Regions from separate parts of the Homo sapiens genome. Here all the other regions are linked to region 1. Evidence: fine-mapped expression QTL. A gene starts in region 1. Each other region holds a variant in brackets. All regions are shown on one strand. Distances are from middle to middle.

The links.
Region 2: its variant is fine-mapped to the expression of GSTT2B in subcutaneous fat (GTEx, PIP 0.90).
Region 3: its variant is fine-mapped to the expression of GSTT2B in prefrontal cortex (GTEx, PIP 0.96).
Region 4: its variant is fine-mapped to the expression of GSTT2B in prefrontal cortex (ROSMAP, PIP 0.95).

What each region holds. Positions count from the first base shown.
Region 1 is chr22:23,957,083-23,964,969 of GRCh38, forward strand. It overlaps GSTT2B (glutathione S-transferase theta 2B), which reads right to left and starts at 4,113. Exons shown (of 5, transcript NM_001080843.4): 1 at 3,938-4,113; 2 at 3,212-3,299; 3 at 1,469-1,619; 4 at 1,203-1,376; 5 at 332-850. The coding sequence starts at 4,049. The coding sequence ends at 641. RefSeq lists enhancers at 1-17, 2,334-2,999.
Region 2 is chr22:23,986,291-23,994,177 of GRCh38, forward strand. It overlaps a transcript of GSTT4 not described here. Among named protein-coding and RNA genes, the nearest start is that of GSTT4, 15 kb to the right of the region's middle. The variant G/A (reference allele first, on the strand shown) is at 3,995.
Region 3 is chr22:23,907,036-23,914,922 of GRCh38, forward strand. No RefSeq gene overlaps it. Among named protein-coding and RNA genes, the nearest start is that of MIF-AS1, 12 kb to the left of the region's middle. RefSeq lists enhancers at 1-654, 1,501-2,345. The variant G/A (reference allele first, on the strand shown) is at 4,471.
Region 4 is chr22:23,999,099-24,006,985 of GRCh38, forward strand. It overlaps GSTT4 (glutathione S-transferase theta 4), which reads right to left and starts at 6,355. Exons shown (of 5, transcript NM_001358664.2): 1 at 6,147-6,355; 2 at 4,662-4,749; 3 at 2,077-2,227; 4 at 977-1,153. The coding sequence starts at 6,258. LOC105372959 (a long non-coding RNA gene) reads left to right here and starts at 6,453. Exons shown (of 2, transcript XR_001755457.1): 1 at 6,453-6,494; 2 at 6,620-7,887. The variant G/C (reference allele first, on the strand shown) is at 4,005.

The DNA of each region.
Region 1 (7,887 bases):
TATACATGGAGGTCTGTGTGACAATGTATAATCTTACTATTTGCAGTTATTACAAAACTGTCCTAGAAGACATGAATGCTTGTTAAAAGAAATCTTTTAAGTTTCCTAGACTTCAAAGACCGTTGCTATGCCCTGTGAAACATCGCCTATATCCTTTAACAGTTTGCAATTCGAATTGGTTACTTACTTAACATTTTGTTGCCCTGGTGATACAATTATGTTGACTCGTTATTGTGAGGTTACTTTGTTATTAACCATGATGAGGATTACTAGCACATACTTTTACTCCATATGTATAACACAACAATGTAGTAAAACCAATAACTCTTGGTTCTCTATTCAAAGTGTTTGGAATCTTTATTCTGTTTAAAACACTGATGACATTTGCCAATTTTTGAGTGTTCTTCATGTTACTGATTTGTAGGAGCTCTTTATATATTGCAGATTTAGTCTCTTACTGGTTATGTATGCTGCACCTGAGGAGTAGCAGCACTGCCAAGGACACTGAGTGTCTTGTCTGTGCAGAGCTTCACATGAAGCTGGAGAGAAGGGACTGGGGCAAGAGGGAAAGATAAAAAGGGGCAAGTAAGTAACAGAATGAATCCTTGTTGCTAATCTCCTGGCCCCCATCCCAGACCCTTCAGGGGATCCTGGCGATTCGAAGCAGCATAGCCTGATAGGCCTCTGGTGAGGGTGTTGGGAGGGTTTTCTTGGCCGCCTGTTCCAGGATGCTCAAGATGATGCTGTGGGCCTCCTGGCATAGCTCAGCACCCAGGAAAGCCTCCACTCGTCCACGCCATGCTGCCAGTCGTGGCCGTCCCTCAAACAGTTCATAGCCGAGAGCCACCGGCTGTAGGGACAAGGATGAAAAAGTTGTGGGCATACAACTTTCCCAGTTGTCACTGCCGACCCGAATGCTGGAACCATGGGCAGAAGTATCAGAGACATGGTCCATTCCCCAGCCCCTAAGTGAATGGACCACAGGGGCCCAGGCAGTATGTTCAGCCTTAGAGCCCAAGAGCAGCCAGGGTGAGACCCCACACCCAGGCAGGAGGCAGAAGTTCAGGGTTCTGGCCCCAGATCATCCAGAGACTTGCTCTATGATTCTGGGCAAAGTTCTGGCTTTCTCCAGGCCTCAGTGTTTCTGTCTGCCTCATGGGTGTGACACGAAGAGGGACACTGCCCACAGGCTGAGCTCACACCTGCATCAGCTCCTCCAGGGCCATGAGATCAGCCAGTGTCACCTGCTGGCCAGCGAGGAAGGGCCTGTCCCCCAGGAACTTGTCCTCCAGCCATTGCAGGGCCTGGTCCATGGCAGTCCTGTTGCGTTCCACCTTCTCCTCGGGCACCTGGACCCCAATGAGTGGCCCCAACACCTGATGGGGGCAGAGAGTGGGTCAGTCTATGGCCCCGGCCTACTGCCAACTACTCCCTGATGGCCAATCACTCTCCAGATGGCTCTCCTCACCTGGACCCACAGGGGTATACCAAAGGTGCCACGGATGCAGTCGGCATGCCAGCCCAGGTACTCATGAACACGGGCACGAGCCTGCAGGTCAGATGGATACCAGTGGTCCGGCGTCTGGTACTTACAGCTCAGGTAAATCAGGATGGCCGAGCTGGGAACAAATGGGCAGTGGCTATAAGGACACTGGCACCAGGCATTTACCCCTAACTGCTCCCATCTGCCAGTGGGGCCCGGGGGCTTCTCTGCATTTGAAGGACTGCCCTCCAGCCTCGCCCTCCATCTCCAGCTCCCCAACACCACCCCCTCCTCCTACGAGTCTCCTCCTGTCTTTGTTGCCTTGGGCACCGACTCTTGGCTGGACCTTCTGCTTTGCATTTTGAGAACCTCATCTCTGTGATATGCCAGCAGCCGCCCTGTGAGGTAGACACTCCTGTTAGCCTTTTAGCACAAGAGAAAACTCAAGGTCAGAATGGTCAAGTGACTTGTCCGAGGCGGTGCAGCTCAGAATAGGCTCCCTGGACCCCTGGAACCCTGCATGGGGCTGGCACACAGTGGATGCTCCGTGGAGTCCCTTGCATGTCCACGCGCTTGGGTCAGGGATCACGAGGGGAGGAATGTCTTTGGCCCCCGTCTGACAGGCCCCCAGCCATCACTTCTGCAGCCACCTGACCTCTTGTCCTTTTCCTGCCCAGCAGCTGGACCTCACCATGAGCTGTGCCCTTGGGCCATGGCATTGGCCTCTAGGCCCGGCCTGGGTAGATTGGGTAGTCTGCAACAAGTCACTAGAGGCTCTTTTCAGCTAGCATTTGTTGAACAAATGCGCAACAGTGGAAAAATGTTCCCTTGTCTTCTCTTCTAATACCCTTCAGTCTGGGAGTGGAGAGGCCCTGCGGCTCAGAAAAGGCTGGAAGATGAGAGGTGGGGGGACATGTTCTGTCAGCCCCTGCTCATCCCGGTCACACCCCAAGCTGTACCTTCTCCCCAGATACCTCTCCTTTCTTTCTTTCCTTTTTTTTTGAGACGGAGTCTCCCTCTGTCGCCCAGGCTGGAGTGGGCTCCCTCTGTCACCCAGGCTGGAGTGCAGTGGTGCTATCTCTGCTCATTGCAAGCTCCGCCTCCTGGGTTCACGCCATTCTCCTGCCTCAGCCTCCCCAGTAGCTGGGACTACAGGCGGCCGCCACCACGCCCTGCTAATGTTTTGTATTTTTAGTAGAGACAGGGTTTCACCGTGTTACCCAGGATGGTCTCGATCTCCTGACCTCGTGATCCGCCCACCTCGGCCTCCCAAAGTGCTGGGATTACAGGCGTAAACCACCGCGCCCGGCCTTTTTGAGACGGAGTCTAGCTCTGTCGCCCAGGCTGGAGTGCAGTGGCGCGATCTCAGCACACTGCAAGCTCCGCTTCCTGGGTTCACACCATTCTCCTGCCTCAGCCTCCAGAGTAGCTGGGACTACAGACGCCCGCCACCACGCCCGGTTAATTTTTTTTCCATTTTTAGTAGAGACGGTGTTTCACGGTGTTAGCCAGGATGGTCTCGGTCTCCTGACCTCGTGATCCGCCCGCCTTGGCCTCCCGAAGTGCCGGGATGACAGGCGTGAGCCACCGCGCCCGGCCAGATCCCTCGCCTTTCCCCTCCCTCGCTGCCCCATGGGGTATGGGAGGGCCACTGGGGCCCGGGGCCAGTGGGGAGAGCCAAGGTCACATGGGCTCCGGATGCGGTGAGGGGTGAGGGAAGGAGGGCACCTTTCGGTCAAGATGAAATCACCATCCTTGAGCGTCGGCAGTTTCCCCAGGCTGTTGATCTGCAAGAACTCCTTGCTCTTGTGCTGCCCTGAAGAGGAAGAAGTCAGAAAAGGTCTTCAGAATAAAAACGCTGCACCTCTACACCCTCCCTCCTCCTCCCCAAGCGGAGCCCCACAGCCCTGAGAAACAGCAAGGTCTGGGACTAGAGGCCTGGATCAGCCTCACTCCCTGGCTGGGCCTCCCTGCCCTGCCACATTCCGGGGCAGCTGGGGGGCTTTGGTGGGTGGGGCCAGGTGCAGCAGGTGGATAAAGAGAAGTTTTCTAGCCGGACTCTGGTGGGCCAGGGGAGGGGAGGCAAACTGGGGTGGCTCATCTCTTCCCATCTCTTAATTCTCACAACAGCATGTCCTTCTTCCCAAGGTCTTCTGGGCTTTGTGAATTTATATGCGTGCATTCCACGCAAGAACTCTGTCAACTCCATTCAGTATTTTCTTTCCATCCCTACAGAGCAGAAGGTAACATTATCCTCCTTTTCAGAAGGCAAGCTAAGGTTCAGAGAGGCTGTGATCCCTCCAAGGCCACTCAGTCCACAGCATTCTCTGGTGGCAGACGCTGCAGGAGGAGGTGAGGGGGCTGTGCGGGCGGCGAGACGCTCAGGGCAGAGCAGGGCGGGGGCCTGGGGGTGCACTGGGTTTGTGGACACGCGGGGAAACGGGCTGGGCCCACCTTTGACCAAATCCACGGTGCGCAGCTCTAAGGGGATGCCATTCTTCTTGGCGAAGATGTAGACGGCGCGGCTGGGCTGGGACACCAGGTCAAGAAACAGCTCTAGGCCCATGGCGGGGGCGGCAAGGACAGCGGGGATGGCAGTGAAGGCGCTGAGCGCGGTGTGGGCAGCAGCTGTGGCAGGATCCCGGCGCGCCGGGAAATAGGGGATCAGGCCCCACCCCCTGGGGACAGCACCCAATTGGAGCGCACCACCCCCGGACCCGCCTCGCCCCTTCGGTTCCTGTCCAGTCCTGCCGGCCAAGACTCCACCACCAGATCCGTGCGTCCCTACAGGGAGGGCGGTCGCTATGAACGCACAGCTGGGAGGGTGGAGTTGGAGCTGGGGACCCTCGACTGGCAGGGAGGACGCGGATGCAGGGGGCCGACTGCAAGGGGAAGGGGAACCGGCTGGACAGGGAGAAGCAGGTCTGCTTTTCGGGATCCCGGTGCCAGGGACCCTGCCCAGTTCCAGGCGTCGCCCTGACCCAGAAACGACTGGGCGCCGCCGTCCTGGAAAGGCCCCAGCGCACGGACATCTGAGGGTTCGTTCAGAGCTCTGTTTCTCGGCGCTGCATGGTGGCGGAAGGGAGGGAGCGAATGGGATCCCCTAAAAGGGATCTTAGAGTTTCACCCAGTGGGATGTGACACTTGCAGGTGTCCCAAACTGGTGGGAACCTTGACTGGAAGGCTGGGGTTAAGGATGAACTTTCTGCCGTCCAGACTGTCCCCTGCAGAGCAGCTGCTGCCAGACAGCGGGAGCTGCCAGACAGCGGGAGCTCCCACTTCGTGCACAGGATGGGGGCAGGGAGCCCGCAGCCGCGGGAGGCAGGAATGACTGTCCGGGAACCTCCTTTCTTCTCCCTGAATCCCAGCCCTGGCATCTCACCAGGGGGCACAGTGATGGTCCAGGGCTGGGCCCGGGACTCTAGCTGAATCTTTCAGAGTATCCCATCCCTCTGGCCAGTGGCCCAAGCGAGTGAACCAGAATGCTTCCTTGGGAGTTTTGAAACTGGAACTGGAGAGAGGAGCTCCCTATGGGGAGGTAAACGGGAGCTGGGGCCACCTGTAGTGACATTTCCTGAGTTCGAGGAGTAGACGAGACTGAGAGAGAAAAGCTGACTCAGAGAAAGGGAGTGATAACAGGGCATGCTGGCCCACACCTGCAATCCCAGTTACTCTCACGGGATCTGTTTCTCTGATGTCTGGGTATGAAAGGACTTTCTAAGCCTCAGAACAGTGGGAGAACTCAACAAAGAAAAAACCAATACATATACAAGGTTACTTTGTGGAGGAAAAAATGGATTAACCTTAAGCAAAAAACTGGGAAGGATCTCGGTAAAAGATACGTCAGAAGGAAGTAATGTCCTTTAAGATGTTCTTAGAAACCCATCAGACAGGTAGGGTGTGGTGGTTCACGCCTGTAATCCCTGTACTTTGGGAGGCAGAGATGGGCGGATCAGTTGAGGTCAGGAGTTTGAGACCAGCCTGGGCAACACGGTGAAGCCCCGTCTCTACTAAAAATACAAAAATTAGCTGGGTGCGGTGGCACACTCGGGAGGCTGAGACAGGAGAATCACTTGAACCTTGGAGGCAGAGGTTTCAGTGAGCTGAGATCATACCACTGCACTCCAGCCGGGCCACTGAGCGAGACTGTCTCAAAACAAACAAACGAACAAACAAAAAGAAGAGAAACTCATCAGACGAAGACACAGGAAAAAAATGAGCGAAGGAAATCAGCAGAGGTTTCATTGAAGGACAAAGAGAAATGGTCAATACATGGATGAAAACATGTTTAACTTCAGTAATAATCAAGGAAGCACACACCAACACAACATGCACATACTGTTTTTATTTATCAAAGGCACACATATTTTTGAAATGAGTACTCCTAATTAATATGTACAGAGCACTTACCCAGTGCCCAGCACAGGGGTGGCACCCTGTGTGTGAGACAGCATGAAACAGGTAGACACGCGCCCTGCTGAAAGTAAGGGACCGCCTCTCTGGAGGATCCATCGGGCAATAAGGAGGTTTCCACACCTTAACTGTGTCTGCCTTGACCTCTGGGGCCTGGGAGCAGAGCCCCCTCCAGCTGGTGGGGAAGGAAGCGTGGTGTGTTTGAGGACAGAATGGAGAGAAGTTGAGTAGAGCAAGTGTAGACTCTTCCTATCCAAAGTGTGGTCAATGGACTGGGAGTATCAGCATCACCAGGGAGCTTGTTGGAAATGCAGAGGCTCAGGCCCCACTCTGACCTTACTGATTGGGAGCATAAACTGTAACCAGATTCCAGGGAGGATTCATACACACATTCCCGTTTGATAAGTGGGGGGTAGTAGGAGGTGAGGTGAAAAGTGGGGAGGGGATGGCTACCGCACTGGAGAAGGCTGGCTTTGTGTTGAGGCCTTTCTCATGAGGGCAGTGGGGAGCCATGGAAGGCTTTATGCAAGAGAGGGTACGGGCAGATTGAGATTACAGAAGGATCCCACTGGTTGCCTTGTGTGAGGACCCAGGGAGAAGGGGGAGGCTGTCCCTGTTTGAGTAGGAGATGAGAGCTACTGGTGGCTATGAGTGGAAAGAAGTGAGCAGAGGTGAGCAGAAATCCCAAGGACTGGTGATGATAGGATGATGGTGGGAACCAGGATGGGCTTTGGGCAGACCCTGACCCCTCTCTCTGCCTGTCGGCCCACCAGATAATAATCCCTGTGTTCCTGGGCGAGTCAGTGCCACCCGAGATGTTGGCGGCCACTTTGGCTGAGCTGGACGGATGCTTGCAGCTGCTCGAGGACAAGTTCCTGCGGGACCAGGCCTTCCTTACTGGGCCCCGTATCTCTGTGGCTGGCTTGGTGGCAATCACGGAGCTGAGGCATGAGAGTGCCATGGGGTGCGGTGGCCCGCTGGGCAGTGGTGTATCCGGGAAGGGAGCTGACATCCCAGCTCATGTTGTCTTTTCTGGCTGTGGGACCCTGTGTGAGTCACTTCTCCTTCTGAGCCTCAGTGTCCTCATCTATAAAATGGGGCTTTACAAACCCCTCACCGCAGCTATATTAAGAGGCTTCCAAGTGTCCCCAGGGAGGGGGACATCCTAGCCCATCACACACATGGTGGAGGAGGGAAAATCCAATCAGAGAACCCCTAAAGCAGGTCATGCTGCCTTACACTTGGCTATGCCCAGCCCCTCCGCTGACTCTGTCTTCCCCTAGCCCATCAGTGCTGGCTGCTGAGTCTTTGAAAGCGGACCCACGGTGGCAGCATGGTGCCCAACACGTGGAGGCTGCAGTGCGGGAGGACTTCTTCCAGGAGGCCCTCCCAGCTGTCCTGAAGGCCAAGGACCTGCCTCCAGTAGAACCTGCTGTTAAAGAGAATCTGAAGACCTTAATGCAGCTTTTCTTGCTGTGAGTGCGTGTCCCACACTTGCTGAGCCACTGAGGGGATGCTGTGTTGGTAGAATAAAGACATGGAGCTGTCCGTCTCCTTGGTTGAAGAGAAGACATATCTGCAAAGGCTCTGGTCCACAGTTCCTCCAGATATCATGCCTGCATTCCTTTTGTCTCCTACCCCATTCCATTCTAGCTTCCATGTGACCTCTGAAAAGAGCTTGGGCAAACGCTTACTTGACCCTGACCTTCTGTGTGGAACTTTGTATGGTTCCTCACTGCCCAGAAGCTAAAGTACAAGTCATTGAACTTTGCATTCAAGGCCTTGCTCCCACTCCTCCAGGTGGCCCCTTCTGCCTGCACACTCCTAACCCCTCTCTGGGCTCCCACCTTGGCCTCTTGGCCTCCGCTCATGCTGTTCCCTCCTCATCTTCGCCTGGTGCCCTTCCTGGTCTTTTGGCATTTGGCACCCTGTCTCTTCTCCAGGGAGACTTCCCTGACCTCCCCAGCCCCAGTCCAGGTCAGGCGACCTCT
Region 2 (7,887 bases), 29 kb after region 1:
GATGGGGTGTGTTCAGGGCTCTCCAGCAGTCCAGGCATGGGAAGGGGACGCTGAGGGCCAAAGGCTAAGGTGACACTGGGAAGGGAACCATAGCAAGGTGAGGAATGGCTTTCGGCCATGTGACTGAATTGCCTGTGTGTGGTGCGTGTGTACGTGTGTGAATGTCAGTGAACTGTGTGTGTGAACGTGAGTGAATTGTGTAACTTTGTTTATGTGTGGGTGTATATGTGTGTGATGTGTGTGAACTGTGTGTATGTGGGTGTATATGTGTGTGATGTGAGTGAACTGTGTGTATGTGGGTGTATATGTGTGTGGTGTGAGTGAACTGTGTGTAAGTAGGTGTATATGTGTGTGAATTTGAATGGTGTGTAAATGTGACTGAGCAGTGTGAATTTGTGTATGTGGGTGTATGTGTGTGAGTGAACTGTGTGATTTTGTTGGTGTGAATTGTGTGCCTGTGTGTGTGAGGTGTGTGTGTGTGTGTGACTGAACTGTGTGATGACTTTGTATTAATGTCAGTGAATGGTGTGGTTGTGTATGTGGGTGTATATGTGTGTGTATGTATGTGAATTGTGTGTGGGGTTGGTGTGTATGTGTGTCAATGTGAGTGAGTTGTGTGACTGTTGAATATGAGTGAATTATGTGATTGTGTGGGTGTATATGTGTGTACAGGAGTTAACTGTGTGACTGTGTGTAAATGTTATGATTGTGTGTGTGGGTGTATATGTGTGAATGTGATACATCGTGTGACTGTGGGTGGACGTGGGTGGATGTGTGTGTGAGTGTGCGTGGCTGTGTGTCGAACAGTGTGTGAGTGTAAGTGTGCAGGTGGTAGCTGTGGAATTAAGGCACATTAGGGGAATCCTTCCTTGGCTCTGGTCCTTGGTTTCCCTCCTATGAAACAAGTTGGGTGAATTAGGCAGTCTCTGGCATTCCAGGATTTGGTCTCAGGTCTAAACAGGATTTTGTAAAGTGAAAGCAGCATCCCTTGGGCATCCCGGGAGGTGTCCCTGCCCTCCATGGCTCACCTTCTGCCACATGGCCCAGCAGCAGCTACTCTGCAGGGCCATGTGCTGCCATGACAGGTACTGATCCCCATGGGCGCGGGCCTGCAGGTCCTGGAGGTACCAGTGGTCAGGTGCTTTGTACATGCAGCTCATATAGAGCAAGCTAGCCACACTGGGGGGACATGGCAGGGGCAGAAGACATGCCCTGAACACTCTTCAGCCATTTTCTGGGGCATTTTCACTATCCCCATGATGCAGAGGAGGGATGTGAGGCTCAGAGAGGTTAGGTAACTGCCCAGGGTCACACAGCCCTACACGGGGCCAGATTATCATCTCAACTAATGGCAGCAAGGAAGAAACAAAATGTCATGAACTTCAGCAGGGGCTCAGGGAAGGCTTCCAGGAGGAAGGGGCACCCAGTGTGAGTCTGAAGAATGAGAGCAAGTTGGGTATCTCCCCAACATATCCAAAGCATGGACAGGGCCAGGAGCAAGGCCAGCAGGGAGAGAGCCTTCCAGGTGACATGGCAGCATTGCTCCCCACCCCGTCCCATCTCCTGTTCACCTATGGTGAAGGGTTGTGCAGTCTGACCCCCAGAGCTCATCATGCCTCTATGGGTGTTGGACCATCCAGTGATCCCAGGCTCTGAATGTGAATCCAGCTCCACCAAGGAGGCACTATGTGGCCTCGGTAAAGGACGCCACCATGCGGCCACCAACCTGGAGGCTGGTTTTGGCTTTCATTTTTCCCACCCACCTCCAACCCTTCAGCACACCCTGCAGTTAGAGTTTCAAGAAAAGTCAGAACCGACCATCACCCCACCAACCCTGCACCACCACCACCTTGGTCTGGGGCTCCAGCGCTGCATGCCAGATGACTGCAGTGGCTTTCTCACCCCTGCCAGGGGGATCCTTTATGACGTAAGTCAGATCACAGTTCTCTGCTCAAAATACTCCAGCGACTCAATCCCCCTGCGGTAAGAGCCAAAGCCTTCCCAGTGTCCCATGCTCCCCTCTGTCGTGACCTCCTGCTCTTCCTGCTCACTACACCCACCCTGGCCCGTTGCTCTCCAGTCTGAACCCCATGCATTGTCCCACCTGGAGCCTTCGCCATCACTCTTCCCTCCAGCCAGAACACCCTTCTCCTCATGCCTTGCACATTCCTACAGCTCTCTGCTCAGATGCCACTTCCTCCAGGGAGTCTTCCCTCAACATCCTACTCACACACCCCCAATCTTACCCTGTTTATTTTTTCCATGGCATCCATCAACATCCGATATGTTCCATGTTTACATGGGTTACTGTCAGCTCCCCCTTCTATTAATGGAATGTGAGATCCATGAGGAGAAGGACGTAGACACGTTCACTGCTCAAGCCCCAGGGCTTAAATGGGGTCTGGCCCTGGTGGATGTTTAGCAAATAGCCACTGAAGCTCGCTGAGTGGTCCCTCGACTCTCCAGGGAAACAGCACTTGCCCCACAGGATTTGTGGGCAAAATGGTAGCACTAAGATGCCTGGTACAGCCGCTCCTCGAAACTTAGCACTCTCCTTTTTTCGGAGGGGAAGGCTGGCGGTGAGGAGGCCCGGAAGCAGACTGGGCCCTCTGGCCTTGTGCAAGTCCCTCCCCTCCTCCAGCCTCAGTTTCCTCACTTGTACAATGCAGGAGGGGACTTCTATAACCCTTGTCAACACTGGGTACCACTGCCTGCCTCCACCCATTCTTCACCCTGGGGCTGGTGCAGGGCCCACAGTCCATGATCCAAGCCATCAACAGTGAACAGACAGCCGACTGGCCCCACAAGGCCCGGCAGCAGCCCACGGACCGGTTACCTCTCAGCCAAGGTGAAGTCCCCATCCTTCAAGGCCCGGCACCTTCCTCAGGGGGTTCACCTGGGCAAAGGCATCGCTGTGCTGCTGGCCTGCAGGAGAGATCAGAGAGGTGAGTGGGGATAACCCAGAGTTCTCTGAGGTCTCTGCCCACCCCCACCCCAAAATCCCAGCAGCAGCTTTCTGAGGCCCCTATCTGGGAGGCATCAGGGAAGAGGAAGCCTCTCTGCTAGTCACTGGGTCACAGACCTTGACCCCATCAGAGGGCCATCTTTCCTGTGTCCAGCTCCTTGAAGCATGGCTCAAGGACAATTCCCTGGAGCTGTAATTCACACCCCACCCCCAGCCAGTTCCATCCATAGGTCAGACCCCTCCAGCCTCCTCCCTGGGCTCTAGGCTTGCCCCCTCTGATTCAGCTTCCTATCCCAGCTGGGGACTTAGGCCCTACTGGCCAGGCTGGGTGACCTGTCAATACCCCAGAGTCCCAGCCAAACATGTTCCCAACCCTCAGACCAACCTCATTCTTGCTGGGAATCCCTGCCCCATTCAGCCACTCAGCCCCCGGTGGCTCAGCTCTTCTTCCTTTCTTATGCCAAACTCTCAAGGCTCCCTCCCCACTGGGGGTTCCCAGGTCTGACTCACTTTAGCATTCTAGGCCAGTGCTAGAGGCCGCATTAGGTGCCTGGTGTTTGGATCAGAGGACCTCAGTCAAGCCAGGCTCCAGTCTGATCATAGGCCTACATGTGGGCCTCTTTGCCCTTCTACTGAATGGACATGCACACCCCTGCCCATTCTCCCTCCACAGACTGCTTCTGTGTCCAGCCCCTGTTCTGTAGCAGGTGACTCAAGCTGGTTGTACCAAGGGCAGCAGTTGGGAAGAGTCAGCTGAGCAGGGTCCTCCCTCTGGCCTGCCCAGGGGGCTCTGGCTCTGCTCTCTGCCCTACTGCTTAGTTATAGCCCTGCCTCCTCCACTGAATTGTGCTCCAGCTGCATCTCTGTATGCCAGCCAGACCAGCAAACGCTGGAGCTCAGGGTGAGGGTGCTGGCCTCCCCCACTGCCCTGCCACAGGGCCCTCCAGCCTCTAGCCTCTAGGAGTAGCCCCTTCAGCTGGGTGAGAAGCCCCATGGGATAGAGCAAGTCAGATGCAGGAAAAAGAAAAG[G/A]CAGAAGAATGCCAAGAAATACATAAAAGTGGAAGAGACCCAGGGCCAGACATGGTGGTGCATGTCTGTGATCTCAACACTTTAGAAGGAGGAGGCAGGAGGATCACTTGAGCTCAGGAGCTCAAGGTCAGCCTGGTCTACATGGCAAAATCACGCGTCTACACACACCAAAAAAAAAAAAAAAAAAAGTAGCTGGGCACGGGGACGTGCCTGTAGTCCCAACTATTCTACTTAGGAGGAGTAAGTTGGGAGGATCACTTGATCCTGAGAGGTCAAGGCTGCAGTGAGCCGGGATCATGCCACTGCCCTCTAGCCTGGGCTGCAGATTGAGACACTGTAATAAATAAATAAATAAATAAATAAATAAATAAACAAACAAACAATAAAAAAGTGGAAGAGACACAGGCAGGGGTAGACAGGGACTATTTTACTTAGGAAACAACGAGGCAGTTTGTTTTTTCCAAGCACATGGGGTGAAGATATTCTTGCCCCACTCCATTTCCCTACCCTCGTTCTGTGCCTGCTGTGCCCTCTCTAAACCTGTATTTTGAAGAATGTTTTGTATTCACAAGCAAAGATCAAGCCTCTATTAAAATAGACAACCAGTGGGGCATGGCGGCTCATGCCTGTAATCCCAACACTTTGGGAGGCCAAGGCAAGAGGATCACTTGAGCCCAGGAGTTCTAGGCCAGCCTCGGAAACACAGCAAGACCTCCTCTCAATAATAATAATAATAATAATAAATTGGCCAGGCATGTCGGTGGGCACCTGTAGTCCCAGCTACTTGAGGGGCTGAGGCGGGAGGATCGCTTAAGCCTGGAAGGTCAAGGCTGCAGTGAGCCATGATTGTGCCACTGCACTCCAGCCTGAGTGACAGAGTTAGATGCTGTCTCCAAAAAGTAAAAATAATAACATAGATAATTATGTAATAGTTTCCACACCGGAGAGTCTGATTCTTCGTGTTAGTCTGCATTCTTGGCCCGACTGCAAAGCAGCGGGGACAGGCAGGGATTCGTGGCCAATATCCCCTGGGCCTGCCTGCCCAGCCCAGCTTTGGTCAGCTCCACTGTGCGAAGCTCGAAGGGGATGCCATTCTTGGCGAAGATGTAGACTGAACGGCAGGGCTGGGACAGCAGACCCATGGCGGGGGCAATGGGGTGGGGCGTCGGAGGGCAGACCTAAACCCAGGGGACGGGCCCTGGGGACAAACCCGGGGACAGGCCCGGGAACAGGAACTGCGGGCAGGAATGGCTGGTTGGGGGCGGCGGACAGGAACGGCTGGGGGTAGGTGAGGGATGGGCAGGAACTGCTGGGTCACCGAGCCTGCAGCGGTGCACCTCACCAGGAGCCCCGAGTCCGGCCACGCCCTCTTCACTCATCCCTTGGCTCCTAGAACTTTGGGTCAATCAGTGGCGTGTCTGCTCTCTCACCACCCCTTTCTGGGAATCTAGGCTGCAGGTATATTTCCCACTAAAAGGGAAGAGGAGAGGCTGGGCGCGGTGGCTCACGCCTGTAATCCCAGCACTTTGGGAGACCGAGGGGGGTGGATCACGAGGTCAGGAGATCGAGACCATACTGGCTAAAACGGTGAAACCCGTCTCTACTAAAAATACAAAAAATTAGCCGGGCGGGGTGGCGGGCGCCTGTAGTCCCAGCTACTCGGGAGGCTGGGGCAGGAGAATGGCGTGAACCCGGGAGGCGGAGCTTGCAGTGAGCCGAGCTCACGCCACTGCACTCCAGCCTGGGCGACAGAGCCATACTCCGTCTCAAAAAAAAAAAAAAAAAAAAAGGAAGAGGAGAAAGGAGGTGCAGCAGCCTCCTTGCCCAGTGCCTGGGCCCAGTGCCCAGGACGGAGGCCAGAGAGGAAGGGTGGCTGACTGCCTGCGGGGCTGCCAGCCCCACACCTCATGAAGGAATGAGCTGTCCCTCCCCAGTTGCTGGGGTCATATTTGTTACACTCTAGCTAACGCCTCCCCGAGATGGCTGAGGCCCTGTGAGGCCTATCCAGAGGTTTCCAACAGTGCCTGGCATTGCACAGTAAATTAATCACCATGACACGAGTTTTGCAAAAGAGAAAAGATTTATTCACAGGGCACCAAGCAAGGATGTGGGATAGTAGCTCTCAAATCCACCTTCCCGAAAATAAGGCTTAGGGATAAGCCTTGCTTCCAAGCAGTAGAGCACAGGCCCCAGCCACACTCAAGGGGAGGGGACCATACAAGGATGTGAATAGCAGTGTCGGCCTTGTGGGCCTACAACGCAGAAGGGCCATGCACTTGGTTTAAAGCTTTGCTGTTGCCATCTTAACATTCTTAACAAGTTAAAAATAAGGGTCCCCACATTTTCATTTATAGCCAGTCCTGTCCAAGGAGTTCAAAGATCTCATGAGGGTGGACAGGGCACTGTCTGCTCTGGGCAGTGATGGGACCACTAACAGTTGTTCTCCAGTCTCCCAGCGCCTACCCCAGGGCCACACCTTCCCCTGGTCTCTACTATTCTTTTTTTTTTCGAGACAGGGTCTTGCTGTTGCCCAGGCTGGAATGAGTGCAGTGGTACAAACTTAGCTTACTGCAGCCTCGACCTGGGCTCAAACAATCCTTCTGCCTTACCCTCCCATGTAGCTCAGACCACATGCGCATGCCACCAATCTGGGCTAATTTTTTGACTTTGTAGAGACGGGGTCGCACTTTGTTTCCCAGGGTGCTCTTGAATTCCTTGGCTCAAGTGATCCTCCCACCTCAGCCTCCCACAGTGCTGGGATTATAGGTGTGATCCACCACCCCTGGCCTCTCTCACATTCTTGACATTTAAAGTTACCATCATTGACAAGGAACATGGGTACACTCCAATTTACTCAAGAAAAAGCTCTTTTCTCCATTGAAGACATATGTGGCCTAGCTGCTTCATATTCTAGTTGAGGTCTTCTTGTTGTTTCCTTTTTCTTCTTCTCTCTTGTTTTTTAGAGACGAGGTCCTGCTGCGTTGCCCAGGCTGGTCTCAAAGTTCTAGCCTCAAGAGACCCTCCTGCCTTGTCCTCCCAAAGTGTTGGGATTACAGGTGTGAGCCACTCTGTCCAGCCTCAAACTGTGGTCATTAGATCAGCAGCAGTAGCAGCCTTGCCTGGGAGCTTGTTAGAAATATACTAACAGGCTCCCACCCCCAAACCCAGACCTACTGAATCAGACAGAGTTTATTTTCATAAGATCCTCAGGTGATCCAAATGCACCTTAAACTTTGAGGAGCTTTGATTCAGAACCTGGGCTGGAGGCCCCTAGGGGCCACCTTGTTCCTCACAGACTGCAAGGTATGTTTTTTTCTTGCCTCTTCTCTCTGTCCCAATGTCTCCTTCTCTCTGTGTCTGACCCTGAGGACCCTGTGACATCCTCCCAGGGGAGTTTCCACTGCCAAAGGCCTGATTCTCTAGAAACTGATGGGCTCCTCTAGACACCAATCTCTACCTGGGCTCTTGTTGAAGAAGCCAATCAGCTCATTGGTTGGCGATCACGTGATATACAACATGGCTGCCTTCCAAGCCTTATGTGTGGACAAGGAGATAGGGACAAGTAGGCATATCATGTTCTGATACCTGGGCCATCGTCTCTCCTCAGGCCCCCAGGATACACGTTTATGGGGAGTTTTCCTCCCTTCCCCCAATATGGTCACTCATAACTTTACACCCAACAGTCAAACAGGGGTGGAAGCTACAGGGTTTCATGTAAACAATAGGCTAGGCTGTGGGGCTGAGTAAAAGGCACTGGACTGTGGTAGGTCTTACTCCAAGATGGCCAAATGGAAGGGCTTTTAGCTTTCTTTGTTTTTGTTTTATATTTTGAGATATAATGTTCAAATTTACACTTCAGAATAAAAAAGAGCCACAATTTATGCTTCATATTT
Region 3 (7,887 bases), 50 kb before region 1:
GCCCCCGGAGGCGTAGGCTGGGCTACCCCAGCAGCGGGGGCCTGGCTATGTGGGGAAAAGAAAAAGAGATCAGATTGTCACTGTGTCTGTGTAGAAAGAAGTAGACATAGGAGGCTCCATTTTGTTCTGTACTAAGAAAAATTCTTCTGCCTTGAGATGCTGTTAATCTATGATCTTACCCCCAGCCCCGTGCTCTCTGAAACATGTGCTGTGTCCACTCAGGGTTAAATGGATTAAGGGCTGTGCAGGATGTGCTTTGTTAAACAGATGCTTGAAGGCAGCATGCTCGTTAAGCGTCATCACCACTCCCTAATCTCAAGTACCCAGGGACACAAACACTGCGGAAGGCCGCAGGGACCTCTTCCTAAGAAAGCCAGGTATTGTCCAAGGTTTATCCCCATGTGATAGTCTGAAATATGGCCTCATGGGAAGGGAAAGACCTGACCGTACCCCAGCCCGACACCCGTAAAGGGTCCGTGCTGAGGAGGATTAGTATAAGAGGAAGGCATGCCTCTTCGCAGTTGAGACAAGAGGAAGGCATCTGTCTCCTGCCCGTCCCTGGGCAATGGAATGTCTCAGTATAAAACCCGATTGTATATTCCATTTACTGAGATGGGGAAAACCGCCTTAGGGCTGGAGGTGGGACATGCGGGCAACAATACTGCTCTGTAAGGCATTGAGATGTTTATGTATATGCACATCAAAGCACAGCACTTAATTCTTTACCTTGTCTATGATGCAGAGACCTTTGTTCACGTGTTTATCTGCTGACCTTCTCTCCACTATTATCCTATGACCCTGCCACATCCCCCTCTCTGAGAAACACCCAAAAATGATCAATAAATACTAAGGGAACTCAGAGGCTGGCGGGATCCTCCATATGCTGAACGCTGGTCCCCTGGGTCCCCTTATTTCTTTCTCTATACTTTGTCTCTGTGTCTTTTTCTTTTCCAAGTCTCTCGTTCCACCTAACGAGAAACACCCACAGGTGTGGAGGGGCAACCCACCCCTTCAGGCTGCATCAGCAACTCAGTTATCCAGGCGCAGGTTCTAGGGTACCCACGTGTTGAGCTCAGTCCCTCTGACTCCCAAGCCAGGACTCTGTCTGACGGCACCTGCTTCGGTCAGGGCGTGGGAGATTGGCCTGGGCAGGCTCTTCCTCCCAAGGCAGGGTCAGTGTTGAGTAAAGGCCAGGACCATTTCCCCAGACAGGCAAGGCAGGGCCCAGGCCTGGGTCCAGGGCCTCTAAGTCCACGTCCCCACTTTGGCCACATGGGTCATGAGGGGTTTCTGTGTGAGTGGCCTTTTACACTTTCCCAAGCAATTTCCCCAGACATTATCTCATGTTATCCTCATGAGGACCACCCTGTGAGGTAGGAATTAGCAACCCTGTTTTAAAGGGGAAACTGAGGTAAGGTATGACGCTTTCCTGGCAGGGCCAGCCTCTGGCACAGCAACAGGGGGACAGTGAGGATGGCCAGATCTGGGTGCCCCTCCCCACTGCCTTCTCTTCCAAGCTACAGTCTTTTATTCAAATTCTTCTCCTCTTTTTCTCTCTCATTTCCCCTCCCCCGCTGCCATGTTTTTTATGCTTGTGGATGTCTCATGCAAGAGTGTTCAATAGCTCCTCCCAGCAGTCTTAGAAGGGAGTGTAAAGATGACCAGACACGGAACCCCGAGAGTTCACTGGGGGTTCCCAAAGGCATGTATAGGATCCAACGTGTTTTTTCTGCCTCCCACTCTGCCCCCTTTCAAGAAGTGCACCTGTGGTTCAAAGTTCAGCTTTTACTGCCGGTGCATGTGTAGGAGAGGACAGGGCAGGCTAGAGCCCTGCTAAGGGCCAGAGAATCTCATCCCACCCAGAGGAGGGTTCTTTTAGGCGGTGGGTACAAATCTCAGAACATCCCCACTGTATTGTTGAGAGGGTGAGGTGGGACATGTTGGGGGAAGAGCGAGCTGCAACCGGTGCAGCTGCGATTATTCAGAGCAGAGGTGGCTTCAGAGACAACATTAAGCTTAACCCTCAGGGGCCCTCTTTGCCTTGGGAGGAGCCCTATCAATGCTTTTGTCATGTGCTTTTGGAAAATATGTAGAAGACATTTTTACAAGTTGGTTGAGGCCTAGTGTCTCTTTTCAGTTCATATTCTCCCTCTGTCACGCGTCTGTCCTGTTGGAATGGCTGTGGCTATTTTGGATATGGCTAAGGGAGAAGGTAAAATTGGGGATCATTTTGTATGAGTTTAGTGGGACACATTTCTGGGCTTTGAAGTCACTTCTGTATCTACTAAAAATTGCTATAGTTATCTTTGTGCATAAATTACTTCTGGCTGATGTAAGCAAATCCCCGTATCGGGACTCAGCCGGGGAGGGTTTTTGGCTTTGCTCAGGAAGGAATTCAAGAGTGAGCTAACAGACAAAACTGAAAGCAAAGCAAGTTTATTAAAGCAACATTGTACAGCAAAATGGCTGCTCCACAGACAGAGCAGGGCTACCCCACAGGTAGAATAGCACTCCAGGATTGCTGGCTAGCTATATTTATACCCCCTGCTAATTATATGCTAAATAAGAGGCAGGTTATTCATAAACTAGGAACAGGAAGTTCCTGGAACCATATAAGATAATTCCTGGGTTATTGCCGTGGGATCATTTGTAAACTGTCATGGCCCTGGTGGGAGTATCTTATGCAAATGCATTTTAATTCCTATTCCGAGCTGGTTTTGGCCATTCTTTGTTATTGTTATGTTCTGTTTTGATCAGCAGGGTTTTGACAGGTGCTTGGAAAAATCCTGCTGATCTCCTCCCTCACAGGGACATGCCTACTGCCAAAGGAGAGACGGAATTATCTTTCTATTCTCCCCATAGAAAATATTACAAAATCACTGTCACACGAAAATGTGATCAAAGAGTCTGCAGCCAAGAAATATGGGGGGGACAGAGTGTTTTAAAGGCGAAGGTGTGTCTGTCACTTAGTAAAAATGTCAGGATTCTTTTTTTTCTGGAGTTTGTGGTGTTTGTCGGCTTTTCAAAATTTGTCATTCCTTTTCTTAATCTAAATAATCATTTTATAGAGAAAAAAAATTACTCATCAGTGTTGATGATGCCCTGGTTTTCTGTTCAGCTTTGTTTTCCAATCAACTCTTCACCCAAGACTCAATCCTCCACCCTCCAACTCTTCATCCAAGACTCAATTCACCCAACACTCAATCCTCCACCCTCCAACTCTTCACCCAAGACTCAATCCTCCACCCTCCAACTCTTCACCCAAGACTCAATCCTCCACCCTCCTCCAACTCTTCACCCAAGAGTCAATCCTCCCCTCCCAGTGTTTACTGATCAGCCTCCTATCAGCTATTAATGGGACCTCAAACATTCTCTATGGCTCTGTTCTCACGCAATGCAATCTGCTAATCTCTAGGAACTGCAGACCCCACTTAATGCATTTAAAGTATGTATAATGTGACCCAATAGCTTCTTTATCCCAAGCTTATTGATTCCTATAAGAATCATCATCCTCAAGTCACACATGAGGAAACTGAGGCCAAGGCCAATGCTAAGGCTGATGGAAGTGACAGATGTTGAAGATGACACAGCATGACACGAGGGATGAGGTCAAGGCTATTGATGAGGTCAAGACAGCTGTTGTGCTTTGTCCCAAGGCCATTCCAGTTGGTGACAAAATAACTATAACAGATTCCTGGCCAGGGCTTCTCCCTCACAGCAGCTGCCTCCTACTGGAGTCAGAAATGCCTTGGTTTATATAGTTTCATTCATAGGCTGTCTTAACTCTATTTAAGCAGAAAAGGGCTGAAATGTCTTGCCCAAGATCCCTCAGCTAGTAAGTGACAGATGCAGGTTTCAAATCCAGGTCGCTGGACTCAGGGCAGGGCCAGGGGGAATGAGGGCAAACAGACTGGCAGCTGATCAAACTGACACTGCCTTCCTGGTAAAGGGGACAGTGAGGAGAAATTGACAATAGCAGGAGGCTCTGACCACAACAGGCTGCCTCCAGTCTCTTCTCTCACCAGTGGCCCCCAAAGCCACGTGAGTTGGGCTTTCTGACCACACTTTATTGCATTTGCAGACCCTACATGCTTTAAACACACTTTTAGTATCTCACTGGGTCTCTAACAACCCCAGGAGTGGGCAGGGCAATAATTATTTCACAGTTGACAAAGCAGCTTCACGAAAACATTGGGAGCTCAATAACTTCCCTATTGGGATGCACCCCCAGGAGCTGTTCAGTTAATGTCATAGCAGGTTCAGGGAATGGGCTTAAACCCCAAGATATCCTACACCATTTTGTACACAGCAGGTTCTGTAGGGAGAAAACCAACAAGGTCTTCCCGGAGGGAATGGGCTTAAACCACAAGATATCCTATACCATTTTGTAAGCCTCCCTGTGATCATTTCCCATCCAAGTACTAACCAGGCCAGACCCTGCTTAGCTTCTGAGATCAGACGAGATTGGGC[G/A]TGTTCAGGGTGGTATGTGAAAGATTCTCCCCGGGGCCTGAAAGTTTGGGGGGATGAATAACTCCTCCCTTCTCAGGCCCAGTCCCAAGGCACAAGACCACTTGTGCTAGCAGCGTGTGTCAGCAAGATAGCAGAAGCAGGAAGAGAGCTGGCCAGGAGACACGTACCCCTGAAGATCAAGAGAGAGGCCATCTGGGTACCATGTAGCAGTTACATCAGACTGGGACACTTCCTGTTTACAGGAGACTATAAAACCCCTGCCCCGTCCTCACCTGGGGCTGACGCCATTTTAGGCCTCAGCCCATCTGCACCCAGGTGCTCATTAAAACAGCGTGTTGCTCCACACTGCCTTGTGTTCTTTGCTGGCAAGCTCTCGGGGTTCGAACCAACACAAGAGCCTTACAGTATGGCCGCAGATGTCTCCCAACATTTCACAGAACCTGGTCAGAATAAAACATTCCATGGGGGTTCAGGTCATAAAAAAATACTGCCTAACCACCTAACCACAGGAACATCTCTATTACATCCTGCTGGATGAAGGGCCCAAGGAACATCTTCAACATCCTGCAGGGGAGCAAGCTATACTGCCCCTTCTCCCCCGGTCCAGACCCATAACTGACAGAGCAGGAGCACTGCCATCTTGAACAAATACCACCATTCTAAGTTCCCCCTTCATTAAAAGCCGCCTAAATCCAGCCCCAAAACATCAGCCTAATGGCTAATGTCAGCATAACCAGAAATATTCCAACCCTAAGATAAACCCCTCTGACCAGAAACATGCCAACCCCGAGACAGCCTCCCTTCCGACCAGAGACATTCCAACCCCGCAATAAACTTTCCCTCACACAGAAACATTCGGAACCTACGATAAGACCCCTTCCAAAACCCTTAAATATCCTTAGTCTGTAACAGAAGTTAGTCTGAGCTAACTCGGCCAGAAGCCCCTCTCAAGTTTATTTTCTAAAATAAACCTGTCCTTGTTGACTGCCCAGCCACCCTTCGTGTTGCTTTCCTCTTCCTTATAGTAAATGTCCCAGTCTGTAAGTGGGACTCGTGCTCTGAGACTAAGCTGGTCCCCCCTCCACAGGTTTGTGCTGGCAATAAACCTGTGTTGCTGTTAAGCTGCCAACTCTTTAACCCTCACCTTCCCTTCAAAACCTAACAAAGATGAATGAGGCATGAACATGAAGACAGAGGGTCAAACCCAAAGAGCAGATTCCGTGAGAAGTCTCCCTATTGACAAGGGTTACTAAGGATGGGGTCTTCTCTGGACCCCCTAGTCTTAGACTTAGTCCACCACATCCAGAAGCCCTTGAAATAAGATTGCAGTGCTTCTGGCATAGCCAAAGACATAGACTTCTCTAAAAATCAGTGCCTAGCTCTCCCCAGGCTGGGCCCTAATTTTTAGTCCAAGCTGTATTATTTTGTAAATCTTCCTGCCATTTCATAGACCCTGGTCACAGTGAAACATTCTGCAGGGGTTTGGGCTGTAAGTAACATCCTCCCCAACTGTCTGACTTCTTTATCACATCTTGTTGGGACAAAGGTTTAAGAAATATTTTTATTAACATCCTCTTGGGCAGTAAGTCCTACCATTCCAGACCCCTCATCCAGGCCTATAATGATTCCAGCCTGTAAGTGCTAGTGGGGCTTTGGCATTAAGTTGGTCCCCACCTCTGTAGGTTGTGTTAATAAACCTGTGTTGTAGAGTGGTCAACTCTCTTGTCTTTAACCCTCGTCTTTTTTCAAAAACCTAACACTCATGTGTCCTCTCCCTCACCTTCTCCTGGCATCCCTTGCCACTGTCCCTCTGTCCCTCTTTCCCCTCCTTAACCCAAAGGGAAATCTCTCCCAAAGGTAAAAGTCTCCCAGGGGTTAAGAGGGAGCTTGAGGCACCAGAAAGAGCTATAGTCACAGCCACCTGTGAAAGCCATCTCTGAGGTCCCTTCCTGTCACAACAGCTGGGCTCCTGACTCAGACCAAGACAGCTTTTGTTTCTTTTCCTTTCTAGCCCCCCACTTCCCACCCACCTTTCTGCTTTCTCATATGGGCTCATTATGGTTTATAGGGCTGGGGAACGTTGCCTCTTCTGCCCTCCATTTCTCCCATCTCCCTTCTTTCCCCTCCACTTTTTCTGAGTCCACTTCTCTTCCCTTCTTCTTCCTTCCCTCTGGGACGCTGCACAGTTCCTTCCACCCGGCACGGCCTGGGACTCTAGACTCCCTCTGAAGGCACGGAAGTATTTCCTTCCCTCCCTCCGACCCGATCTTTCTGCCCTTGATTCAAAACAATCTGAGGTCCCTAGGCCCTTCCCTTTCCGCCTCTGCGCTCCCCATGGGGTCCGGTGTAGTTTTCCCGCCCCTTCCCTGCAGCTCCCGAGACCACCCGGACACAACGGAGCCATCCAGCGCCCTCAGAGGCCCTGGGCACACGGGCAGATGGTCACCGCCTCCTAAGGGAGCAGCGCGCGCCCGTTGCTCGCTGCCCGTTGGTTGTTGCTGGTAGCTCCGGAGGGCGGGGTTGGCGAGGAAAGTGAGTCCGTATGTCCCCAGCATGCTCCGCGCGGGGGCGGGGCTCTAAGGGGGCAGGCGAAGGCGGAACTGGCGTGGTCAAACCAACCTATCAGCCTCCAGCATGCTCCGTGTGGGAGCGGGGTTCCCGGGGGCGGGGCTTGGTTTGTGTGCCCTTCCGGCGTTTCGCCCCTGCGTTCTCTGAGATGCTCCCACGCAGATGTATGGGCCTAATTCGCTAATATCCACTCTATATCCTGTTCCATCCTCTTGTAATGGGCGTTTGGAGTGTTGCCAATTTTTTGCTGTTATAATGATTGTAATAGCATATTAAAAAACTTGAACATAGTTTGATTGTAATAACATTAAATATAGCATCTTAAACATACAGTTTGAGCGTGCCAACCTGATGGGTGTGGAATGTAATATTCATTATAACTTTGATTTTCATTTCCCTACTTTGAGTAAGTTTGAACTTCTCTTTATGTAATTATTGACTACTCTGTTTTCATGTTCTGAGAATTGCCTGTTTGTATTTTATGCCCATTTTTCTATTGGGTTGTGGTTTTTATTGATTGGTAGTTCTTTATAATTTTATGGATACCAGTCTTTTACTAGTTCAGCGCATTAATTGCAAATATTTGCTCCCACTCTGTGGCTTGCTTCCTTTCCACCCCTAATTCCTAGGGTGTCTTTTTGAAGCACAAATCTAAAATTGTAACACAGGCGACTATCAATCTTTTCCTCTATGATTTGAGCATTTTGTGTTTTGCTTAAAAACTCAGCCCTTGTCCCAAGGTCATAGAGATATTCTCCCGTATTTTCTACTGATCCATCCCCCATATTTAGGTCTTTGGTCCATCTGTATTAATGTTTATGTGTAATATGAGATAGGGATCCTACTTTA
Region 4 (7,887 bases), 42 kb after region 1:
TCAGGTTTTTTCCTCCATGTTTAGCCTCCCACTGTGATCAAGCTCAGGGGCTAGGATGGGAGACCTGGCGGGCAGTCTACCCTGCAGTTTCGCTGGCTTACTAAGAGTTTGGTTTGCACCCAAGATCTTTGGGAAGCCCAAGAATGGGTGTGTGTGGGTGAAATGTAAGGGGTGGGGACGAAGCATATGGCTGAACCCTTGGGGCAGGCCAGAATGATTTTTCCTGGTGCTGGTCTGCCCTGCAAACAGACCAAGGAGACTAATTTTCATATCAGCCAGAGATCTCTGGGATAAGGAAAAGAATACTGCATTTTCTGGTCAATCCACCAGGACCCCAGGTCCCTCCTCTCGGGCATATCTCTGGCTGATATGCAAATTAGTCTCTTTGGTCAGTGTGCAGTGCCCTAGCTGGTGTGCAGGATGGCCAGTTGAGACCCTGGCCAGTGTCTTGACAAGCAGAACTGGTCACCCTCCCCTGCATGTAGAGGCCACATAAATGCCCCACACTCAGGTGTGCCTCCAAATGCACAGTGGATGCCCCTCAGACCCAGCCACGAGAGCTGTCCTCCAGAGCTGTCTGTCTGGAGCTCTGGGAAACAGGCAGGGCCAGAAGGACACCCAGGAAGCCAGTGAACATTTCCTGGAGAGTCCAGCAAGAGGAGGAGGTATCTGGGATGCCGGTGGATTGAGCAGGAAATGCAGTGTTCTTCTCTATCCCAGGCTCACCCTCCGGGTCCTCCCACACCGAAGAATCTTTGTCAAGTGTGGAGAACTGTGATCCTTCCTGATTCATAACATTCTGTGCTTCCTGTTGCCCCGATTGAGTCCAGGCCCCCAGGCCTGGTTCCCGCAGCCCCCATGGCAGCTCTGCCTGCCTTTCCCGCCTCACCAGCCTATCCTCAAGTGATGGCCCCATTGGTCACAGAGGAGTCCTACCTCTGCCCAGGGTCTAACCCTCCTCCAATCCACTCCACACCTGCATCATCTCCACCACGGCCACCAGGTCAGCCAGTGAGATTTGGTTCCCGGTGATGAACATCTTATCCTGCAGAAAATACTCCTCAAAGAGCTGCAGGCTGTTCTTCACCTCTTCCACTGCATGCTCCATCTTCTCAGCTGAAACTTCCTCCCCTGTTATCTTTGGGATCAGCAACTGGCCAGGGTTGGGAAGAGGAGGGAAGAGGAGGCTGCACTCCAGGGCCACCTGCCCTGCCAGGTCTCTGTACTCTTGTCTGCTGGATAGATATTGAACACTTCCCAGGATATAAAGCAGTTTCACCTCTTTTAGCAGTTCTGATTGGTGGAAGTTGCTGGGAACCATGTGTTCACAAGGATTTGGGGAGCTCAGCAGGCATAAGTCCTGTGATTGATTAGTGATGTCTGTCACAGGCATAGAATTCAAAGTAGAGACACATGTACTGGTTATTTGTCATCTTCTAATTTTCTATAGGCCATACTCTTTTTTGTTTTTGTTTTTTGAGATGGAGTCTCACTCTGTCGCCCAGGCTGGAGTGCAGTGGCACAATCTTGGCTCACTGCCAACTCCAACTCCTGGGTTCAAGCAATTGTCCTGCCTCAGCGTCCTGAGTAGCTGGGATTACAGGTGCCCATCACCACACCCAGCTAATAATTTTGTATTTTTAGTAGAGATGGTGTTTCACAATGTTGGCAAGGTAGGTCTTGAACTCCTGACCTCAAGTGATCTGCCCGCCTCGGCCTCCCAAAGTACTGGGATTACAGTTGTGAGCCACCGTACCCGGCCTTCTGTGGGCCTTTTGACGCTGAGATTCTCTAGTTCAGAATGAAATGCCTCGAATGCTGTCCTGGGTGAGTCACATCAGCCCCTCCCGTATGCCCTTCCCCTCGCCCTAATAAGACTCTTTCATGCCCATTGTTTCAGTCCACACTCCTGACGGCTCTGTAAGGCGGGCAGGAGAAGGAGCTGAGGAAATGAGGCCCAGAGAGGGAGGGAGACTTGCTTGAGGTCGCCGGCAGTCAGCAGGGCCAGAACTGGCCTCCAGCCTTCCTGACTTCCCTGTGCCCGTGTCCCCAAGCCCCAGAAGTGGCCCTGCTCACCTTGAGCCAGACTATCTTCTTCATGGGCAGCTGAAAGGCCGTGTGTTGCCAAGCCACGAACTCATCCACACGGGCACGTGCGTGCGGGTCTGGCGGGCACCAGTGCGATGGTGCGCTGTACTTGCGGCACAGGTAGTAAAGGATGGCCGCGCTGCAGAAGGGGCCGGTCAGGGGCACTGCCCTTGCCTTCCTGAGTGCCACTACATCAACCACCCCGGTGTGGCCTGGGCCCAACTGCTGGGGCTTCCAGAGCAAAGAGGAGCCCAAACGGCCCCGAGAAAGACCTTCACCAGAGCTGTCTGTCTGACAGTCAGTAAGGGCTGGGAAGGAGCCCTGCGGGGTGAGTAGGAGTTGGGGGCTGGTGGTATAACAAAGAGTAGGCCAGCAGGGGGAACAACACGTGTTGAATTGGGATGCTGAGGTGGGAGGATCACTTGATCCCAGGAATTTGGGGCTACTGTGAGCCAAGATCACACCACTGCACTCCAGCTTGGGTGAAAGATCAAGATCCTTTTTCAAAAACAAAAACGGGGGGGCACGATGGCTCACACCTGTAATCCCGGCACTTTGGGAGGCCAATGGGGGCAGATCCCTTGAGGCCAGGAGTTGGAGACCAGCCTGGCCAACATGGTGAAACCCTGTCTCTACTAAAATGAAAATACAAAAATTAGCTAGTTGTGGTGGCACACACCTGTAATCCCAGCTACTTGGGAAGCTGAGGCACGGGAGTCACTTGAACCTGGGAGGCAGAGGTTGTAGTGAGCCAAGATTGTGCCACTGTACTCCAGCCTGGGCCACAGAGCAAGACTCTGTCTCAAAAAACCAACAAAGAAAAACACATGCTGAAATACGAGGGTAAAGGGAGCAAGGTAAATCTGAAGAAAAGAGAGTAGGGGGTTGCAACTGGAAGAAGGGTGGGGGTGATTGGGGAGTGATGAGGCAGCCAGAGACACTGTGGAGTCCACGTAGGGTAGCCCCTGGAGGTGCAGGGAGGTTATGGACTTAATGCTTAAGATTAGGCATTATATAAGCCAGGGCATGAAAGGATCCATCTCTCTGGTGCTGGATGGAGGGTGAGCCCGAGGGGGCAGAATGGACAATGAGGGGGCCAGCAACTATCGGGAAGGTTGTGGTGTCTGGGAATGTTGGAGGCCATGGGGACAGAGGGAAGGGGATGGAGGGGAGACATGCTTCGGAGGGGATGTCCTAGGCCTTGCTGATTGATGGCTGGTGTGGGAACCTCCGCAGAACAAGGGCTCCTTTATCATCACCAGCAGCAACCATGCCAAGGTAAAAAGGTCAGGGCATGGAGAGAGCTATCGGTTAAAAAGTGGCAGGAGAGACAGCAACTGGCTGCAAGACTCAGAACTTCTTGGCTGGGCACGGTGGCTCACGCCTGTAATCCCAGCACTCTGGGAGGCCGAGGCGGGGGGATCATGGGGTCAGGAGATCGAGACCATCCTGGTTAACACAGTGAAACCCCGTCTCTACTAAAAATACAAAAAAATTAGCCAGGCATGGTGGCGGGCACCTGTAGTCCCAGCTACTCAGGAGGCTGAGGCAGGAGAATGGCGTGAACCCGGGAGGCGGAGCTTGCAGTGAGCCAAGATAGCGCCACTGCACTCCAGCCTGGGCAACAGAGCGAGACTCCGTCTCAAAAAAAAAAAAAAAAAAAACTTCTTTGGATCCTGATCCAAACAAACTGCCAAGAAAATGTTTAGGAGATAATCATAGAGTTTTGAACAGGAGCCACATATTAGATGAAATCCAGGAATTATTGTTAATTTTATGAGGTATCTTAATGGTATCGTAGTGATGCTACGCTCTATCCTAGCCCAGGCTGGAGTGCAGTGGCGCAATCAGAGTTCACTGCAGTTCTGAACTTCCTGGCCTCAAGCGATCCTCCCGTGTCAGCCTCTGGAAGTGCT[G/C]GGATTATAGGCATGAGCCACCACACCCAGCCTGTTGCTTTTTTTTTGTTTGTTTTAAGAACTCTTATCTCTGAAAAGTATGTTCCTAAACATTTATTGATTTATTTACTTATTTATTTTTATTTTTGAGATGGGATCTCACTCTGTTGCCCACGCTGAAGTGCAACGACGCAGTCTTGGCTCACTGCATCCTCTGCCTCCTGGCTCAAGCAGTCTTTCCGCCTCAGCCTCCCGAGTAGCTGGGACTACAGGTGCAGACCACCATGCTGGCTAATTTTTGTATTTTTTGTAGAGATGGGGTTTTGCCATGTTGTCTAGGCTAGGCTGGTCTTGAACACGTGAGCTCAGGCCATCCCCTCACTTCAGCCTCTCAAAGTGCTAGAATTACAGGCATGAGCTGGCTTCTAAACATTTATGAATGGAATGATGGGGTGTCTGGGAGGCAGGGGAATAGAAATGATGTAAACTGGACCCCAAGTTGGCAAGAGTCAGAGCTGGGCGATGGATTTGTGGGGTTCCTCGTGTCCCTCATTAGTTAGTATTCACTCTCCTTTAGTGCACGTGTGAGATTTTCCATGGTCAAACAGACAAATGCTTGCACTGAACCTCCCAGGAGAAGCAGAGACAGATGGTGCAAGGGCCCCAGGGAAGACTTACCTTTCACTTAAGATAAATTTCCCATCTTTGAGGCTGGGCAGCTTCCTGAGGGGGTTGATGTCAATGTATCCTTTGCTGTGGTGGTGACCTGGGAGGGGCAGGGAAGGTCTGAGGCTGTGGGACTCCAGGGGAGAGAGAACTGAGACTCCCAGAGACCCAAACGCCTCCCTCTCTATTTTCTCAAGAAGAGGGAACTGAGGCCCGGAGGGACATTGCGTCTCACCCCAGGTCACAGGGCAAGGCAGTTGCAGAACCGGACTGCGATCAGAACTGCTGGCTCCCAGCCTGCTCCACCCTAGGTTTGGTGACTCCCGTGCCTCCTACCTGTGTCCCAGGACCAGGACGACCCTTTTACCCAGAAGCTGGAGGCCTCCAGTGCCCACCCCCAAAGCTGGATCTGAAAACACAGCCTTTGAATCACCTGAAGCCCTGAGGGCCTGGGTCCCATCCGCAATCCCATCGCTCTCACTCTGTCTCCACTTTAAGGAAGCCAGGCCCAGCACACAGCTGGACATCCAAAGGGAAGCTTCTCGGACACAATCAGGGTCATCTTAACAGGGAACCTGAGGTGGGGGCAGGAACTGAAACTCTTCCTGGACCAGCCGCCTCCAGTTGGAAACATTTCTGGGGGCTCCACTCGCAGCCCGTTCATTTCCACAGCTTCCCTGTCTCTTCCTCTGTGTTCTAGAGGCTTCTGCTTTTGCAGGCTGAGCTTTTGGAGTCCCTCTGTGCTGGGGATGGAGTTGGAGCCCACCCCTCTGACCCTCACTCAGGGTTAGTGGAGCCCTGAGCCTTTCTCAACACTGGGGAGGATGGGTGTAGACGGACTGTGCACTTCTGCCCCCTTTGCCAACCTGGTGGGCAGGTGCTGAGTTCACAAGGTCCTAGAATCCCACAAGGAAGCCAGGGTGCCTGGTGGGAGCCCAGGGAGTCCCAGCTACTGTTCCTTCCCCCTTCTCCTCGAAAAGCCTGTTCATCTGTGGCGTGGGGACTGTCATTAGTGAGCACTGACTAAGGTAGGCTGGACAAGGATGCAGCCTACAAGCCGCGTGGCATCTTTTCCTTCCCTGTGGACCTCTGGGGTGATTCCCTTGTCTCTGTCTCTGCTCCTCAGAAACGCCCCTATCAGGCTGTGCGCGGTGGCTCACGCCTGTAATCCCAGCACTCTGGAGGCTGAGGTGGGCAGATCACTTGAGGTCAGGAGTTTGAGACCAGCCTGGCCAACATGGTGAAACCCCTGTTAAAAATACAAAAAATTAGCTGGGCGTGGTGGCATGCACCTCTAATCCCAGCTACTTGGGAGGCTGAGGCAGGAGACGCACTTGAACCCAGCAGAGGTTGCAGTGAGCCGAGATAGCACCACCGTACTCCATGCTGGGCAACAGAGCGAGACTCCATCAAAAAACAAGAAAAAAAGAAAAGCCGCAATCTGTGTGTCCTGCCTCCCCCCAGGACCAGGCCTGCCAGGCAGCAGTGGGAGTTGACCTTTCAGCAGATCCACAAACTGAAAGTTGAACTGGATGTCATGCTTCTTCGAGAAGATGTAGACGGCACGGCAGGGTGCTGACAGCAGGTCCATGTAGAGCTCCAGTGCCATGTTGAGACACATGCCAGGCCCCACAGCCGCAGTTGGCCAGCCACAGACCTGGGCCTATGTCTGGCCAGAGTCCCTGGCCCTGTGCCCTCTCCGATCTGGGCCCAGGATCCTGTGTTCCCCAGGGAAACCTCTTGTTTCCCTTTGTGTTGTCATAAGGCCAGGAAGCCTGCAATTCTCACAGCATCAAGGATTCTAAGGAGGCCCAGGAGTAGGCTGGGGAGAGGCCCGTGGCAAAGGTGTGGCAGCCGTGACCCTACTCTCCCCCTTCCACGTGTGCCTGTGCCCCGTGGTGCCACCTCACAGACACCAGTCTGAGAAGGGATTATGCCTGGGAATTCCCACGGCTGGATTTTCATTGCAGAACCTGACGAAAGGGGCTTTGCAGGGTCCAGAATGAAGAGGAGGCAATGAGAATTATCCCTGGAGGATTCTAGAAGTAGAGGCTGGGAGTATCCACAGGTAAATCGAGCCTGAACTATGACTAGAAAGGAATTGGGAGAAAGAGACACAGGTGAATCGAGCCTGAACTATGACTAGAAAGGAACTGGGAGAAAGAGACACAGGAAACTGTGAGCTTTGGGAGCAATGGGGACACCACCACCAGGAAGTCAGGGGGCACTCAGCCGGTGTGTGCCACACAGAGGAGCCTAGAAACTTCCTGGCCTTGGTTGGGGCTGCAGTGGCCAGACTGTGTACCTGGTGGCCAAGGAAGGTAACTAGAGCCCCACGTAGAGGACTGAGTGCCACTCACTCTATGCTGTGATCTAATAGGTCTAGGCTGAGAAATGGGACTGACCCCACTTCTGGTGACAGAGTAAGCCTGGAGACAAGCGAAGAGCATGCAGTGTGTTTATTGCAGACAGCAGGGTGCAGTGGAGTGGGCTGCACCCACTGCACCTGCTTCTGGGCCAGCTGGGGGTCCCGCCAAGCCTCACTGTGGTTCAGAGGCTGGAGTATGAGCTTGTGGGCCTCCAGCAAGAGCTCAGTACCAAGGGCAGCCGCCACACGGGCCTGCCACACTGCCAGCCGGGGCAGTCTTGGAAGAGGTCGCAGCCAACGGCAGTGGGCTGGGAAGACAGGGCAGCTGGGGTTGGGGCTCAGCCCCATGCCCAGAGTCCCCCCAGAGGGCAGGTGGGTAGGAAAGCTTCACCTGCATCACCTCCGTCAGCACCAAGTCTTCCAGGGAGATCTGCTCCATTGCCAGGAAGGGCCTGGCCACCAGCACCCCCCAATCCAGGTGCTGCAGGGCTGGCATCAGCCTCCCCAACAGCCGCTCCAGCTGTGCAGCATCTGCAGGCTGTCCGGAGAAGTGGGGCAGGAGAGACTGGGCTGGGAGGAGAGGAGCAACTTAACCCAGACTCTTGGAAGCCTCTTGGGCCTCCTCTCCATCCCTTCCCGGCTGCCACTCATTAGTGATGTCCTCTGGGGCTCTGTGTTCAGAAGGTTTCTAAGGATTCATTCAGGCTTAGGGGAAGGAGTACTGTGATAGATTAGTTATGTCTGCTGAGGACAGTGGAAGTGAAGCTAATATGTAATATGTACCAACTGGTGCCTTCCATCTCTGGGGGTCCAGGCCCCTGCCCCAGCCTGCATGACAGGGCCTAGGAAGCTCACCTTGCACAGGTAGAC